Linked DNA regions of Homo sapiens. The protein of the gene in region 1 purifies or fractionates together with the protein of each later gene. This does not show direct contact. Each region holds a gene or a part of one and is shown in the gene's direction. Other genes may lie near its edges.

What was found. The genes of interacting proteins can lie anywhere in the genome.
Region 2: the proteins of CRCP (region 1) and GNAZ purify together in Homo sapiens (affinity purification with mass spectrometry; one large-scale study listed by BioGRID and IntAct). This does not show direct contact.
Region 3: the proteins of CRCP (region 1) and CSNK1G3 purify together in Homo sapiens (affinity purification with mass spectrometry; one large-scale study listed by BioGRID and IntAct). This does not show direct contact.
Region 4: the proteins of CRCP (region 1) and MGME1 purify together in Homo sapiens (affinity purification with mass spectrometry; one large-scale study listed by BioGRID and IntAct). This does not show direct contact.

Annotation. Positions count from the first base shown.
Region 1 is NC_000007.14:66,134,458-66,139,743, forward strand, and holds part of CRCP (DNA-directed RNA polymerase III subunit RPC9), read left to right. Parts: intron 1-5,286. UniProt on the Homo sapiens protein: DNA-dependent RNA polymerase catalyzes the transcription of DNA into RNA using the four ribonucleoside triphosphates as substrates.
Region 2 is NC_000022.11:23,077,019-23,080,518, forward strand, and holds part of GNAZ (guanine nucleotide-binding protein G(z) subunit alpha), read left to right. Parts: intron 1-3,500. UniProt on the Homo sapiens protein: Guanine nucleotide-binding proteins (G proteins) are involved as modulators or transducers in various transmembrane signaling systems.
Region 3 is NC_000005.10:123,518,677-123,522,176, forward strand, and holds part of CSNK1G3 (casein kinase I isoform gamma-3), read left to right. Parts: intron 1-3,500. UniProt on the Homo sapiens protein: Serine/threonine-protein kinase. Casein kinases are operationally defined by their preferential utilization of acidic proteins such as caseins as substrates. It can phosphorylate a large number of proteins. Participates in Wnt signaling.
Region 4 is NC_000020.11:17,975,518-17,979,017, forward strand, and holds part of MGME1 (mitochondrial genome maintenance exonuclease 1 isoform 2 precursor), read left to right. Parts: intron 1-166; coding exon 167-386; intron 387-3,500. UniProt on the Homo sapiens protein: Metal-dependent single-stranded DNA (ssDNA) exonuclease involved in mitochondrial genome maintenance. Has preference for 5'-3' exonuclease activity but is also capable of endonuclease activity on linear substrates.

The DNA of each region.
Region 1 (5,286 bases):
CGGCTGGGTTTGGATTTAAAGAAGGATTATAGTATTGGAGATGAAACAACTGAAAGTTAGACATAGGGACTAGAGTAAGGAACAAATCTTTTTTTTTTTTTTTTTATAAATGAAGAAAGTTCATTTATCCTAGTGATACTGTATTACTCTGCCTGCTTATTCTGCAAAATTAGCAGAGATTAATTTACATTCTCAAAAAAGACGGGTGAGGGGAAATGGAAATGCTTCATGGAAAAGAAGGCAAATTTAGGTCATAGGTAGAGATCTCAATCAAATGGGCCAAAATACAGTTTATTTATATCTGCTAACTCCCAACTGCTAGCATCTGACCACAGCATAACAAGCTTGGAATCGGGGAACCTGGGCTGTAGTCCAGTTTCTGCCCCTTATAGCACCATGACCTTGGAAAAGGTATTTGACCTCTCTGAGTTTCATTATCCTTACCACTGAATAAGGATCATCTGCTAAACTCACAAGGCTGGGGAAAGGGTGAAGGGTGGTGTCTTCATGGAAACAATATGTGTAGATGTCCTTTTTGGACTCCAGAAGCCATAAATGATGCAACCTTATTTATTAACCATTAATGTGAACAGGGCCAACCATTTCTATGTTATTAACACTGCTTCTTCCCTAATGATTCAATTCAGATAAACCTTACAAAGCACTTCACACCAAGAGCTGAGTATCAGGGCCACTTGGTTCTTACAGACGCAGTGCCTCCAAGCCAAAATTGGTAGAACCAATAGTTCTACTCTTAAAGCAGGACCTCTCTAGCCTCCCATTATCTAGATGAAAATGAGCTTACTAATTTAGAAACACAAGTGAGTATATTCTAGGCTAACCAAAGTAATTCTTCTCTAATTATTGAGAACATTAAATGTCACGAGCTGATCTCAAAATATTAGTAAAATAAGTTAAATTGTTTTGAAAGGAAGGAAATGTGATAATGTAGAAATGGGGAAAAAACAAGACAGAATTGAAATATTATATTAATCAAGTACTAACCCTGGTTTGAATGGGTAAATGCAGAAGACCTTTCTTCCTTCTTTTTTTATTTATTTATCTTTTTTTTCAAAATTATACTTTAAGTTCTAGGGTACATGTGCACAACGTGCAAGTTTGTTACATATGTATACATGTGCCATGAGGAACAAATCTTAATGGGGTTTAAAAATCTTTTCTTGGCCAGGTGTGGCGGCTCATGCCTGTAATCCCAGCACTTTGGGAGGCTGAGGTGGGTGGATCACCTGAGGTTGGGAGTTCTAACCAGCCTGACCAACATGGAGAAACCCCATCTCTACTAAAAATACAAAATTAGCTGGGCGTGCTGGCACATGCCTGTAATCCCAACTACTAGGGAGGCTGAGGCAGGAGAATCGCTTGAACCTGGGAGACGGAGGTTGCGGTGAGCCAAGATCGCGCCCTTGCGCTCCAGCCTGGACAACAAGAGCAAAACTCTGTCTCAAAAAAAAAAAAAAATCTTTTCTTGGAGTCCCAGTTTGTATGACATATCGCATCAACCCCACTCCCAGAATTCAGACCAAATTGGATGAAAAGTAGGGTTGACAAGTTAAAGTACTTTTTATAAAGTTGATCAGTGAAGTCTTTTGACATTTGTGTTTGCTTGAGGCAAAAGTGGCTTGATCATCTTCTGTGAGTTCTTGTAGTTTCCAGTTCCTTTTCTTGGTCTGGAATGAGTTCAACCTTTTAAAATTGAAAACGTCATACATCAAGAGTTTACATGAGAAGAAAACTAGCCCGTTTTTTTTTTATTGGTTTGTTTTTTTTTGAGATGGAGTTTCACTCTTGTGAGTTCATGCTGGAGTGCAATGGTGCAATCTCGGCTCACCGCAACCTCTGCCTTCGGGTTCAAGTGATTCCTCCTGCCTCAGCCTCCACAGTAGCTGGGATTACAGGCATCTGCCACCACACCTGGCTAGTTTTGTATTTTTAGTAGAGACGTGGTTTCTCCATGTTGATCAGGCTGGTCTCGAACTCCCAACCTCAGGTGATCCATCCACCTCGACCTCTCAAAGTTCTGGGATTACAGGTGTGAGTCACCGTGCCTGGCCAATTTTGTATTTTTAGTAGAGATGGGGTTTCACTCTATTGGCCAGGCTGGTCTTGAACTCCTGACCTCAGGTGATCCTCCTGCTTTGGCTGCCCAAAGTGCTAGCATTTCAGGTGTGAGCCACCGTGCCTGGCCTATGTATACATTTTTGAATTGACTTGTTGATATCTGGAACAAATCCTGCTGAGATTCTGATTGGGATTGCCTTACATCTATAGGTCAGTTTTGGGGGAGAATTGACATCTTGACAATATTAATAATTCAAGATCGGACGGGCACGGTGGCTCACACCTATAATCCCAGCACTTTGGGAGGCTGAGGCAGGTGGATCACGAGGTCAGGAGTTCAAGACCATCCTGGCCAACATGGTGAAACCCCGTCTCTACTAAAAATACAAAAAATTAGCCGGGTGTGGTGACGGGGGCGCCTGTAGTCCCAGCTACTCGGGAGGCTGAGGCAGGAGAATCACTTGAACCTGGGAGATGGAGGTTGCAGTGAGCCGAGATTGCGCCACTGCACTCCAGCCTGGCGACAGAGCGAGACTGTCTCAAAAAAAAATTTAATAATAATAATAATTTAAGATCAGTCAAAGGTTAAAAAAAAACAACCCGCCAATACTGAACCTTCTAGTCCATGAAAACAGTGTAGCATACAGGTTCTGCACAAATTTTTTTAGATTTATACCTATTTCATAATTTTGCGTGCTATTGTAAATGGTGCTCATTTCTAGTTGTTGATTGCTGATATAGAAGTACAGCTGACTTTATATTGATCTTATGCCCTCCAGCCTTGATAAATCCACTTATTAGTTCTAGGAACTTTTTTAGTGTATTCTTTAGGATTTTCTGTGCAGAAAGTCGTGGTATTTGCAAACAGAGTTTTACTTCTTTCTCATCTGTATGGCTTTTCCTTCTTTTTCTTATTTCATTGCCCTGGCTGGGGCCTCCAGGATGATGTTGAGTAGGAGTGGTGAGAGCAGACATCCTCATCTTGTCCCTGATATTAAGGGAAAACAGTCAGTCCTTCACCATTAAGTATGATGCTAGTTTAGGTTTTCCATGAATGTCTTTTACCAGGTTTAGGAAGTTCAGATTGCTGAGATTGGATGTTGAATGTTGTCACTTGCTTTTTCTATATCTATAAAGCTAAAAAGATTTGTAGCCTTTTGGCTGTATCTTTTTGTTTATTTTTGTTTTTAGTAGTTACTGAAGGGATCCCTACTAGGTTACTAGTAGGGTTAATAATATGCATGCCTGACCATTTATAGTCCAGAGTTAATATTTTACCAGTTGGTGTATATAAGTCTCTTTACCTTCTTTTTGTGTTATGGTTGTATTTATAACATATAATCTACATACATTGAAACATATAATCTGCATACTATTAGTAGTGTTTTTACATTGACTTTCTGTATTCTTACATATTTTAAAGAACTTAAGAGAACAAAAATAGTCTTTTTGTCATCATTTCTTTTCCTCTCTATTCCTGAAGTGCCCTGCGTCCTTTTTATCATTTACTTCACCAGGAAGAACTGCCTTTGGCACTTTTCTGAGAACAGGTCTCTTGGCTACAAATTCTCTTATTTTCATTTAGCTGAGAATGTCATTATTTCCTTTCATTCCTGAAGGATAATTTCACTGGGTTGATTGATCTTTTCCTTCAGAACTTTTAAGATGTCATTTCAGTGACTTCTGGCTGTCACAGTTTTTGATTAGAAATCTGTGATCAGGCTGGATGCAGTGGCTCATGCCTATTATCTCAGCACTTTGGGAGGCTGAGGCGGGAAGATCACTTGAGGCCAGGAGTTTGAGACCAGCTTGGGCATCATTGTGAGACTCCATCTCTATATTTTGAAAAATAATTAATTAAAAAAAAATTTTAATCCGCTATCACTCTAACCCTAATGTGTCATTTTCCTCTGGCTGCTGTTAAGATTTTTTTTATCCCCCTCTACTCCTACTGCTTCACTTCACTAGCCTGGGCGCGGTGGCTCACGCCTGTAATCCCAGCACTTTGGGAGGCCGAGGCTGGCAGATCACGAGGTCAGGAGATCGAGACCATCCTGGCTAACACGGTGAAACCTCGTCTCTACTAAAAAAAAAAAAAAAAAAAAAAATCAGCTGGGCATGGTGGCGGGCGCCTGTAGTCCCAGCTACTCGGGAGGCTGAGATAGGAGAATGGCGTGAACCCGGGAGGCAGAGCTTGCAGTGAGCCAAGATGCGCCACTGCACTCCGGCCTGGGGGACAGAGCGAGACTCCGTCTCAAAAAAAAAAAAAAATTTAAATAAATTTCAAAAAAGATTTTCAAGTCTTTGGTCTTCAATAATTTGATAATGATATATTTCAGCTTTTTTTTCCCCAGTTTATTTTTGCTGAGCTTCTTGATTATGTAAATTTATGTTTCTTACTACATTTGTGAAGTTCTCAGCTATTTTTGAAATATTTTTTCTATCCCAATCTCTTTCTCCTCCTTTTCTTCAGCTCCCAGAAACACAACTGGTAAACCTCTGATACTGCTGTACAGGTCTTTGAGGCTCTGTTCCTTTTTAAAAAAATTTGTAGTTCAAATGGAATAATTTCTCTTTTTTTTCCTGTCTCTTTTTTTAGTAGAGATAAGGTTTCACTCTGTTGCCCAAGCTGAAGTGCGGTGGCACCCTCAGGCTCACTGCAGCCTCAGAGTCTAATGGGATAATTTCTGTTGATCTGTCTGTATATGCACAGATTGTTCTGGCATCTTCCGTTATCAAGCCTACCAGTGAATTTTTCATTTCAGGTATTTTTCAATTCTAAAGTTTCCATTTGGTTATTTGTTATAACTTCTATTCTTTCCTGAGAACTTGTATTATTCCATTCATTTCAGGAATGTTTACTTTTTCCCCCAGTTATTATAATAGTTAGAATCTTGATAATTTTAACATGTCATCATGGGCTTGGCATCTGTTGATTATCTTTTCCCTGGAGAATGAGTCGTATTTTCGTGGTCGAGGTAATTGTAGATTGTATCCTGGACATTTGAGTATTATATTGTTTAGACTCTGGGTCCTGTTAAAAGCTTCTGGTTTGTGTTTTAGGAGGCTGTCAATCCAATTAGGTTCAGACTTCAAGTCGGTCTTGCCTTCCGGGGCAAGGATTTCAGTGTCATTTGGTTTTGAAACCCACTCTGGGTCTTTGCATATGGGACTGGACTGGCGGTGGAACTTGCTCCCTTCTCACTT
Region 2 (3,500 bases), on another chromosome or scaffold:
CGTCCAAAGCATGCTGTGCTGAAGAGGATTCTAAGGCTGTGCTGCAGCCCAGAGGGAAAGAGTCATGGTCGATTAGTGATGTCTGCAGCGGGCACGGGAGGCAGGATTTAGATGAGCTTGCCAGTGACTGGTGAACCTCACCACTGTACCCCCTCCTATCTAGCAGCTTTAACCCACCCTATCTCTCCTTACATGCCCCTTCCTTAGTGACACTGATGCTAACCCCTTATTGGGAAGGACTGGCCTCCGTCTTCCTGAGTCCCATGAGCAGCTCAGGTCATTGCTTGCTGACTGTCTCTTCTCTCATTTGATGCCTCACTCCCTGTAGTGACCTCAGGGTCCAACCCCATGCTTCGTTCATGGCAGCCTCTTTCTGTACACTGAAGAATGAATAAGTGAATGAGTGGTAGAGACTCAACCACTCTACAAGGCCGGGAGCCTCCTCTTGGATGTACACCTGATGTTGATCTCTGTTCCAGCAAGGAGCCCCTAGAAGCCTTCTTGGAATTGGGAGGCTGGATGGCCACGGAAACAAGGTGCTAAACCGTGTGGTTTCAGCTCCAGGTGTTGCAGGAGTGGGGTCAGCAAGGGAGGAGGGGGCAAGGTGACTAAGGAGGGCTGAGGCATGTAAAGTACCAGGCTCTGTGTTTGTGGGGCCCGGTGGTCCTGTCTGACCTTGGCTATGGAGCAGCTAATCAGGCTTCCCCAGAGGCAAAGCTGGGAAAACCTTCCAAGCTGCCAAGAGGGGCCTTCTGAAGACCCTTCTGACTATGGGTGGGAGAACTTGGCACCTACAGCCTTCACCCTGACCCCAGCAGGCCCTGACCCCCTGTGAACTGGTGGTACCTCACCCCTACTCCTCTTGCACCCCCACACTAGTGGCCCTACCCCTAACTGTGGCCAGGCCAGGGGAGGAGCAACTCCACCATGAGGGCTTGGCCCTCATGCCTCCTCCTGCCCAGCTCTGCATGGCATGTCCCTCTGGCCTTAGCTGCCCCAGCTGCATGTGGCCTCAGGCCAGCCCCACCCAGCCCTCTTGCTTCCTGTGGCCCTGTAGAGTGGCTACCAGGACCCCTGCTGGTGAGGGCGGGTGCGGGTGGCCTGTCTCCGAGCTGGGCTTTCCTCCAGCATGGTCACCCCCTCACCCGCTCAGTTACCTCTGATATGCTGTGCAAACATATTTCTCGATGAAATGCTGGGAAGAAAAATAATTAGAGTGTTGCCTCCATTATCCAATTTCGGATTAATCAAACTCTCTTTGTCCTCGGCCAAAATCTATTCATTTCCCTTAAACACTGGGCCAGTGCCAGGCATTGATTTCCTCTATGATAACACCACGCACGCAAGCACAGCCATGCCCAGCCTTGCCCCACCCCGTGGCTGGGACACAGAGGCACTGGTGGGGCTGCCCTTGTCCCCCCAACACTGCCCACCTCCTCCAAGGAGTCTCCTGGCCACACTGACACCCCCATCTCTGTCGTGGCTCCTGGAGTGCTTGGCCTCAGTCTCCAGTGTGTTTGTCTTGCCACGCTGGCTGTTCTGGGGCTCTCCCTCCTCCCAGGATGGTGTGGAATGGATAGAGGAGGTGTGGAGGGTGTGGCCACTGCGGTCCCCAGGGACCACAGGGAATGGGCTGCAGCCCCAGGCTCTGGGTGGGCCAGGGTTTGGGGGATTATCCCCATCACTGGCACAGGAAGAAGGCCAAGGGTGAGGGCCAGGGCTTCTAAGGGGGCTGAGGGGCCATGCAATGTATGTGGGGTGGGAGCACACTTGCAGGGGTAGCAACAGAAGCCCAGCCCCAAAGGGCTTACAAGATGAGGGGACATCCTGGCTCCCGGGCCTGAGGGCTTAGTCGTGGGGCAGCATCAGGATCGGCCAAGTCCAGGTGGGCGGGGGCTGTGCGTCTACCCGTGTCCACCCAGGGAAGGCCACGGGCCTTTCCAGAAGACCTCCCAGAAGTCCCCAACTATCCCCTCCGTGAGCCACGTTGACCGATTCCTCACTCAGTCACTACGAGGGCCTGGGATTGATTTATTGGCACCTGCTTGGTGCTAGGTCCATGTGGGCACATGGGATACATCAATGAACAAACAGACCAACAGTCCCTGCCCTATGGCACAGTGGGAAAGAGGTGGGCGATAAACACTCTAAGTAAATTATACAGTGTGCTAGAAAGGGACCATGCTTGGGGCAAGGCAGCACACGTGGTGTGGCTGTGTGCGAATATGGGGGTCATTTTCCATCGTAAATAGGATGGGCAGGGAGGCCTCCTAAGGAAGGGACATCTGAGCCATTGGATGGGGAGAGGGCGCGGAAGCGAAGTCCACTTGGCTTTCTGGACAAAGAGTTTTCCAGGAGGAAGGAACAGCCAGTGCACAGGCCCTGAGTTAAGAGTGAGGGATGGTGCTAGAGAGGCAGCTAGAGGCAGCATGGCAGGAGTGGGGGAGGGGGAGCATGGGCGTGGGAGTCAGAGAGGCCAGGCATTGCACAGCCCTGGTGCCCTGGCTGGACTTTGACTCGGGGTCTGCCCATGTCAAGCAAGCGTCGGGAGCAAACATGAGAAGGTTTCAAGCACAAGTGAGACATACTCTGCCTCATTTTTACAAGGATGCCCCTGGCTGCTGGTGGAGCACAGGGCACAGGGGGCTGGAGACAGCAAGACCAGAGAAGTCATACTGCTGCAAAACAGATGAGAGGCTGGGGCTGGCTAGCGGGAGTGAGTGGTAGAATTCTGGACAGTCAGGGCAATTAAGGGTTCCCCTGAGGCTGGCTGGGTCCAGCCACAACCTGTGGTGCCAGCCTCAGTTCTCAAGGAAAGGGACGCAGGGAAGGCGTGCTGGGCATGTAGTGGACACCACTCATGCCCCTAGGTCCCCAAGGTAGGGGATGGGATTGTGGGATGCCACACATGGAGGCAGAGGGCAGGAGGTTGCAGGGCCTCAAAGACCCAGAAGGTGAAATCAGATTCCCCACTCAAGTGAGGGTTTGATGGAGTCAGCAGTTTCCTTCCCTGGGGAAACTGGGGAGCCAGGAGCCTGGGGCTACGGCTCTCTCCAAGGCAGCAACCTCTTTGATTTGGCTCTTAATGAAGGCCCCACTTCTTCTCTGCTGTCATGGCCACCCTCTCCTCCATAGGTGGAACCTTTGCATATTGATTTATTTATTTACTCCTGGCCCAGAGAAATATCTGGCTTGATTTCCTCCTGAGTCAGTGTTCCTCAGGCGACACTATCACCCTTTGTCTGGTCAGCCGTGGTGGCTGTGGGCCAAAAGACAGGACAGGTGGCTGAGGGTGTCCAGAGCCAGGACAGCACAGGGTTACAGGGAAGGGCCTCCCTGTTCATCTCATCTCCCCGGTCATCTCATCTCCCCTTCCTTTAGCAGAAGGACACTGGGAGGCCCAGCCGGGGCATAGCCTGGGGTTGTCTGTAGGATGGGGACACTGTGTTCACTAACCGTAGTCCTTCCTCCCATCTGCTCGGACTATGGCTTCAGGATAG
Region 3 (3,500 bases), on another chromosome or scaffold:
AAGGTTATCATGGTTGGTTTCTACTAATCAGGAGATACCTTCTGCAATTGGTGTTGGGATCACATTTTTCTGAGTTAGATGGAAGAGGGAGGATATTTTAAAAAAATTGTGGGAAGGAAGAATTTGGGGGATATGGATGTTAGAGAGATGATAAATAGTGATCGCTGTGTCTACCTGTTTTGAAGCGATTCTCGTGCTTCAGCGTCCCAAGTAGCTGGGATTACAGGTGCATGCCACTGCACCCAGCTAATTTTTGTATTTTTAGTATACATGGGCTTTCTCCATGCTGGCCAGGCTGGTCTCGAACTCCTGGCCTCAAGTGATCTGCCTGCCTTGGCCTCCCAAAGTGCTGGGATTATAGGCTTGAGTCACCGTGGCTGGCAAGTTACTTTTTGAGACGGAGTTTTACTCTTGTTTCCCAGGCTGGAGTGCCATGGCATGATCTCGGTTCATTGCAACCCCTGCCTCTTGGGTTCAAGTGATTCTCCTGCCTCAGCATCCTGAGTAGCTGGGATTACAGGCAGTCGCCACCTTTCCTGGCTAATTGTTGTATGTTTAGTAGAGACGGGGTTTTGCCATGTTGGCCAGGCTGGTCTTGAACTCCTGACCTCAGGTGATCTGCCTGCCTCGGTCTCCCAAAGTGCTGGATTACAGGCATGAGCCACTGTGCCCGGCTGGGTCTGAATATTTTAGGAGCTAAAAACACTACTTTATTTTTTCATTGGCTAACTTTGAATCAATAAAATAGGTGGTGAAGTTGAAAGATTATAATTTTTTTCTATGAAACTCATGAAGCCATTTAATTTTACATTAAAATTTTTTCCTATAAACTTGTTTAAATTTTTTTTTCTGCATTGTTGCTTTCCTTCCTCACCATGAAGTTGCCCATACCTTTGATTTCATTGATTACTTTGCTTATCATATCTAGGGGAGAATAAGTGCATTGAGGAAATGGGAGTTTCTTGGTCAGAAGGATTTATTTTGAATCCTGGAATTCCAGTGAGATTGGAGGAAAGGATGGTTTTTACATATTTTGAGAGCAGCAGAGTTGGTAAGGGGTTGGGGAGGAAGGGAAGGACCATAGGATTTTAGACTTAAAATGAATCATAGGAAGATTGAAATGCTCAAGCCACACACCTGATTAGTAGAACTCTTATATCCTAATTACTAGTGGAGTGCTCTTTCTGAGTAAGAATTAGGAGGCCATAATAATCTTGTCTACTTTACAGTTTTGCTCAGGACTGTGGGCTACCAATGTAAATCAGTCAGCTAATCACCTTTAGTACAGATACCTGTGTTCTTAGGCTTTGGAAAAATTTAACCAGAAGTTTTCTTTTTTTTCCAGTAAAATAAGTAAACAGACAAAATTTTTCAGCTTGCCTCAAGCAGTCAACAACAATGACAACATCACACAGAAAGACAGGCAGACACACACACATGGAATAATCTTAAACCTAGCCTGCTTAAATGAAAATGCAAAAGCAGACTGTTTGGGACAATTCATTATTTTATTTTCAAGAAAATGATCTTAAGCATTTCTTTACCATCAATATATGTAAATGAAAGGAATATATATGTGCATATATACTATACATGTATACATAGATACATATATGTATGGGTTGTAAGTATATGGAGTAAATCCATCCATCTTCTGGAAGAATATTTATGTTAATGTCAGTTGTTTATAAATGGTGAGATTTAGGATGATTTTTATTTTTATACTTCATTTACTTCTCTATATTGTTTGGGTTTTCAGCTGTCACTGTGCATTATTTCTACCATCAGAAAAAACAGTAATTTTTTTTTTTTTTTTGAGGGGGGTAGAATCTTGGGGTGGGATGTGTTTTCTACCAGTTTAGATTTTAATATATAACTGCTTTCCTTGTATATTACCATGAATAAAGTGTGCCTCAAATGTATTGATACTTTGCAGATTTCTTTATGTTTAAAATTGGATGTATTAAAATTACTTATCTTAAAATTTTAAATTGAAATTGGCCATATAATATCTTTTGGTACAAATATACATTATAAAATTAGTGGACTTCTGAATATTTTGAAATTATTGTGTTATTTATTTTTTTAGTTTGTTTGGTTTGACTTCAGGTGGTATACTAGGCAGTGTATTAGACTGTGATTTATTAGAGTTAAAATTATATTCAGAATTTCCTTTAGTAAAAAGGGAAGTGAAAATGTTTTTTTTCTTTACACCCACTGTGTGTCATGTTTATTTTCTATTTCTGTGAAATACTTATTTTATATTCTAGCAATGAATACTTTCAAGTGGCAGGCAAATATATTAGGTAATCAGGACAGAAGAGAGAAAATTTATGGTATTCTATAAGTCTTAGGGTGTGCAAATTTATGACTACAGGACCTTTTAATAAAATTCTAATTTGGAGTACAAAAATAGTCTAGTATTGTTTTGGAGATGAAACTAGTAGGTGTCAGTTTTAGATGACCTTGAAAAAAAGTGTTTATAGATGCATATTTTTTACAAAACATTATTTTCTTTTCTACATTTATTTTAGGGAATCTGACAACAGTCTGACTCTCCCTACTCCAAAAATGTAAATCTTTAAATCTTAAAGATGTGGAATCTTGTGATGCCAGTTTTTATTTTAAAAAAAGGATCTTTACTGAGTACTTTTTCTGTCATACGAGTATCAGGATATATTGTTGCTGATGTGTCTTTATATAATTGAGATTCTGCAAATGTTTGTAGTTAATAAAGTATCAAAATATAATCAGCTCCTTAAGATAATTGTTTTGAGTATTTTCTGATATCTATTGAAAGTCGATAACTAGAATGCATATTGTGAGTTTGCTTATTATTGTATGCTTTGCTGTTTACCTTAATACCTACTAATGAAGGTGGTTTTTTTAAGACTGAAAAAGAAATCCTGAGCATTTGGGAATGAGAATATCCAATAAGCTAAAATTAATTTTACTATACACACTTGTTTAAAAATTTCCAGTTGAAAATTAGTAATTTTTCTTCTGTGACAGAGTAAATGAAAGAAGAAAAATGGACAATTTTAAAGATAGTTCATGCAGTCCTTGCTATGGGCTGGGAATGCTAACATTTAACTAAATAGATGAGAGGAGGGAAGGATTTGTGGAGAAAGTTTTTACTAGTGGTTCTTGGCCCGAGTTCATATTACAGTTTTCTTGGGAGCTTAAAAAAAAAAGACAGATGTTGGGATTCTACCCATGCTAATTTATATTCCATAAATAATCAGTAGGGCCTGGAAAGGGCTAGGGCATTGATATATTTTAGGATTTCTACAGACGATTCCAGTGTCCTGCAGGGTTGAAAATAACTAATTTCTCCTTCTTTTTACACTCTCAGCCCTTTAAAAAAATGGCTTTCTTTTATTTTCCAACTGTCTTTTTAAAATTTGAGGTGGAGGTATGAAGATGACACAGAAGAAAATGCAAAGAAAATATTAGCAAGAGAATCAAGTTAAAGTAGTGGCTTCTGCTCATAGCTTCAT
Region 4 (3,500 bases), on another chromosome or scaffold:
TACACTCCAGCCTGGGCGACAGAGGGAGACTCCATCCAAAAAAAAAAAAAAGAAAAAAAAATGTCATTTTTAATTGTATTGTTTCAGGGCGTTTTAGAGTATTTGTTTTTCAGTGTTAGCTTTGTTTGTGTTTCCCCCCTCCCCTTTTCCCTGATTTTCTTTTCAGACGTCTTTTTACAAGGGAAACGGTTCCACGAAGCCTTGGAAAGCATACTTTCACCCCAGGAAACCTTAAAAGAGAGAGATGAAAATCTCCTCAAGTCTGGTTACATTGAAAGTGTCCAGCATATTCTGAAAGATGTCAGTGGAGTGCGAGCTCTTGAAAGTGCTGTTCAACATGAAACCTTAAACTATATAGGTCTGCTGGACTGTGTGGCTGAGTATCAGTAAGTATGAGATTGGAGGTGAATTAATACAGCGTAGGACAGATGGTGCCTGTCAAAGGTGTGCCTGTAGGTACTGTAGCCTCTGTCTGTTTAATGTCCAGACCTTTGTGCTAGGTAAAAGAATTGGGTGGGGCGGGGTTGAGAACAGGTACAAGGAGAAGAGCCACGTAACCTTTGTCATCCAGTACTCCAAAATCAAATTGTTTGCTGGAGAAAGGTATATTCTTTGTTTGTTTGTTTTGTTTTGAGACGGAGTGTCACCCAAGCTGGAGTGCAGTGGTGCAATCTTGGCTCACTGCAACCTCCGTCTCCCAGGTTCAAGCGGTTCTCCTGCCTCAGCCTCCTGAGTAGCTGGGACTACAGGCATGCACCACCGCACCTGGCTAATTTTTGTATTTTTAGTAGAGACAGGGTTTCACCATGTTGGCCAGGCTGGTCTCAAACTCCCGACCTCAAGTGATCCATCCACCTTGGTTTCCCAAAGTGCTGGGATTACAGGCGTGAGCCACTGCACCTGGCCGAGATTTTTCAATCTCCCTAACATGGCCTGTTTGCCAGCCTGTCCTTCCCCTCCCCCAAAGCAAGGTACCTGCCATAAGATCCAATTTCATTCCTGCGTTTTCTTTCCTGTTTTTCTAAAGATAGCACCATGATCTGTTGGTTCTGAAAATCAACTCTTCCTGGCTTCCAGGCAGTGCTTGACATGGATCAGAGATCTGAACTTACTAAAGCTTCCCATGGTTGTTTTGTTTTGTTTTGTTTCGTTTTGTTTTTTGAGACGGAGTTTTGCTCTTGTTGCCCAGGCTGGAGTGCAGTGGTGCGATTTCAGCTCACTGCAACCTCCATCTCCTAGGTTCAAGCTATTATCTTGCCTCAGCCTCCCAAGTAGCTGGGATTACAGGCATGCGCCACCATGTGTGGCTGATTTTGTATTTTTAGTAGAGATGGGGTTTCTCCATGTTGGTCAGGCTGGTCTCGAACTTCGGACCTCAGGTGATCCGCCTGCCTCAGCCTCCCAAAGTGCTAGGATTGTAGGCATGAGCCACCACGCCCGGTCCCCATGGTTTTTATATCGTAGCTGTCTTACTGTTTTACTCAGGTACTTCAGAGTCCAAGTGTTACAGGAAAGGGGTCCTGATCCAGACCCCGAGAGGGTTCTTCGATCTCGGGCAAGAAAGAATTTAGGTTGAAGGCAGGCACAGTGGCTCACGCCTGTAATCCCAGCACTTTGGGAGGCCGAGGTGGGCAGATCACCTGAGGTCAGGAGTTCAAGACCAGCCTAGCCAACATGGCAAAACTCCGTCTCTACTAAAAATACAAAAATTAGCCAGGCGCAGTGGTGTGTGCCTATAGTCCCAGCTACTCGGGAGTCTGAGGCAGGAGAATCACTTTAACCCGGGAGGCAGAAGTTGCAGTGAACCGAGATGGTGCCACTGCACTCCAGCCTGAGCAACAGGTGAGACTCTGTCTCAAAAAAAAAAAAATAAAAGAAAGAAAAGAAAAAGCATTCAGGATGAGTCTGCAGTGCAAAGTAAAAGCAGGTTTATTAATAAAGTAAAGTAGTGGAAGTATAGCTACTCCATAGACAGAGCAGGGCGTTCCTGAAAGTAAGAGGAGGAACACTTCCACCCTAAGTACAGTGCTCATATATATAAGATAAAAAAAGAGATCTTGGGGAGATGTGCTCTACTGCAAGGGTTTGTGATAAAGGATTAATTTTCTTAATTATTATATTTTGCAAGAATCGATACTATCTTTAAAGCAAAATTAGGAATGCCTTCGTTCTCCAGATATCAGGGTATCTGGACACTCCCAAGTCTGGGTCTGTTTAGTAAACATTATTAATTTGTTCCCTTAACCTTAAACATCTAGAGGCTATGAATGCCTGACTTTCTGGGAATGCAGCCCAGCAAGGCCCAGCCTCACTTTCCTAGCCCTCACTCAAGATGGAGTTGCTCTCGTTCGAACGCCTCTGATACAAAGGTGGCTACAACCTGCAGGTACCCCTAATCCAAATAAGGCAAGCGATCACTAAGAACAAGATAGAAAAATCCGTTCATGTAAACCTTGAAGCTCTAGTTAAAATTTAAGTTTAAAAGCTTGTCTATTCCACAGCCCAATACAAATTCGTAAACTTTCTTAAAACATTATGAGATTTTTTTTTGGTTATTTATTTATTTATTTTTAGTTCATCAGCTATTGTGTGGCCCAAGACAATTCTTCCAATGTGGGCCAGGAAGCCGAAAGAGTGGGCACCCTTGATAGTCTGAAAACTGTTTAGACCACCTAATGGTTTTATTTTTTATTTATTTATTTTTGAGACGGAGTTTCACTCTTGTTGCCCAGGTTGGAGTGCAATGGCGTGATCTTGGCTCACTGTAACCTCTGCCTCCTGGGTTCAAGCGATTCTCCTGCCTCAGCCTCCCAAGTAGCTGGGATTAGAGGTGCACGCCACCACACCCGGCTAATTTTTGTGTTATTAGTAGAGATGGGGTTTCGCCATGTTGGCCAGGCTGGTCTCGAACTCCTGACCTCAGGTGATCCACCCACCTCAGCCTCCCAAAGTGCTGAGATTACAGACGTGAGCCACCGCGCCTGGCCTAGACCACCTAATGGTTTTATAGCACAACTGCGTCATATCTGAGAAGAGCCCTGTATACCAAGAGATTTAATAGACTTTGGTTGCCTTTTAGATAAACCAAGGAAGCCATACAGTCACCTCCACCCAAGGCCTACAAGAAGTTCCTGACACCCAATGCTTGTCATAGAGATGATAAAATATGTCCATAGCACTGTTGTTTGTTTTTTGCTTTTTAAGTCAACATCAACCTTGGTAATATGAACATTTTTGAAACTACGGTTTTTTTTTGTTGTTTTTGTTTTTGTTTTTGAGACAGAGTCTTGCTCTGTCACCCAGACTGGAGTGTGGTGGCCCAATCTCAGTTCACTGCAACCTCTGCCTCCTGGGTTCAAGCAATTCTCCTGTGTCAGCCTCCCCAAGTGGCTAGGACTACAGGCACCCACCACCACGCCTGGCTAATTTTTTGTGTTTTTAGTAGAGATGGGGTTTGGACATGTTGCCCAGGCTGGTCTCGAGCTCCGGGCCTTGAGTGA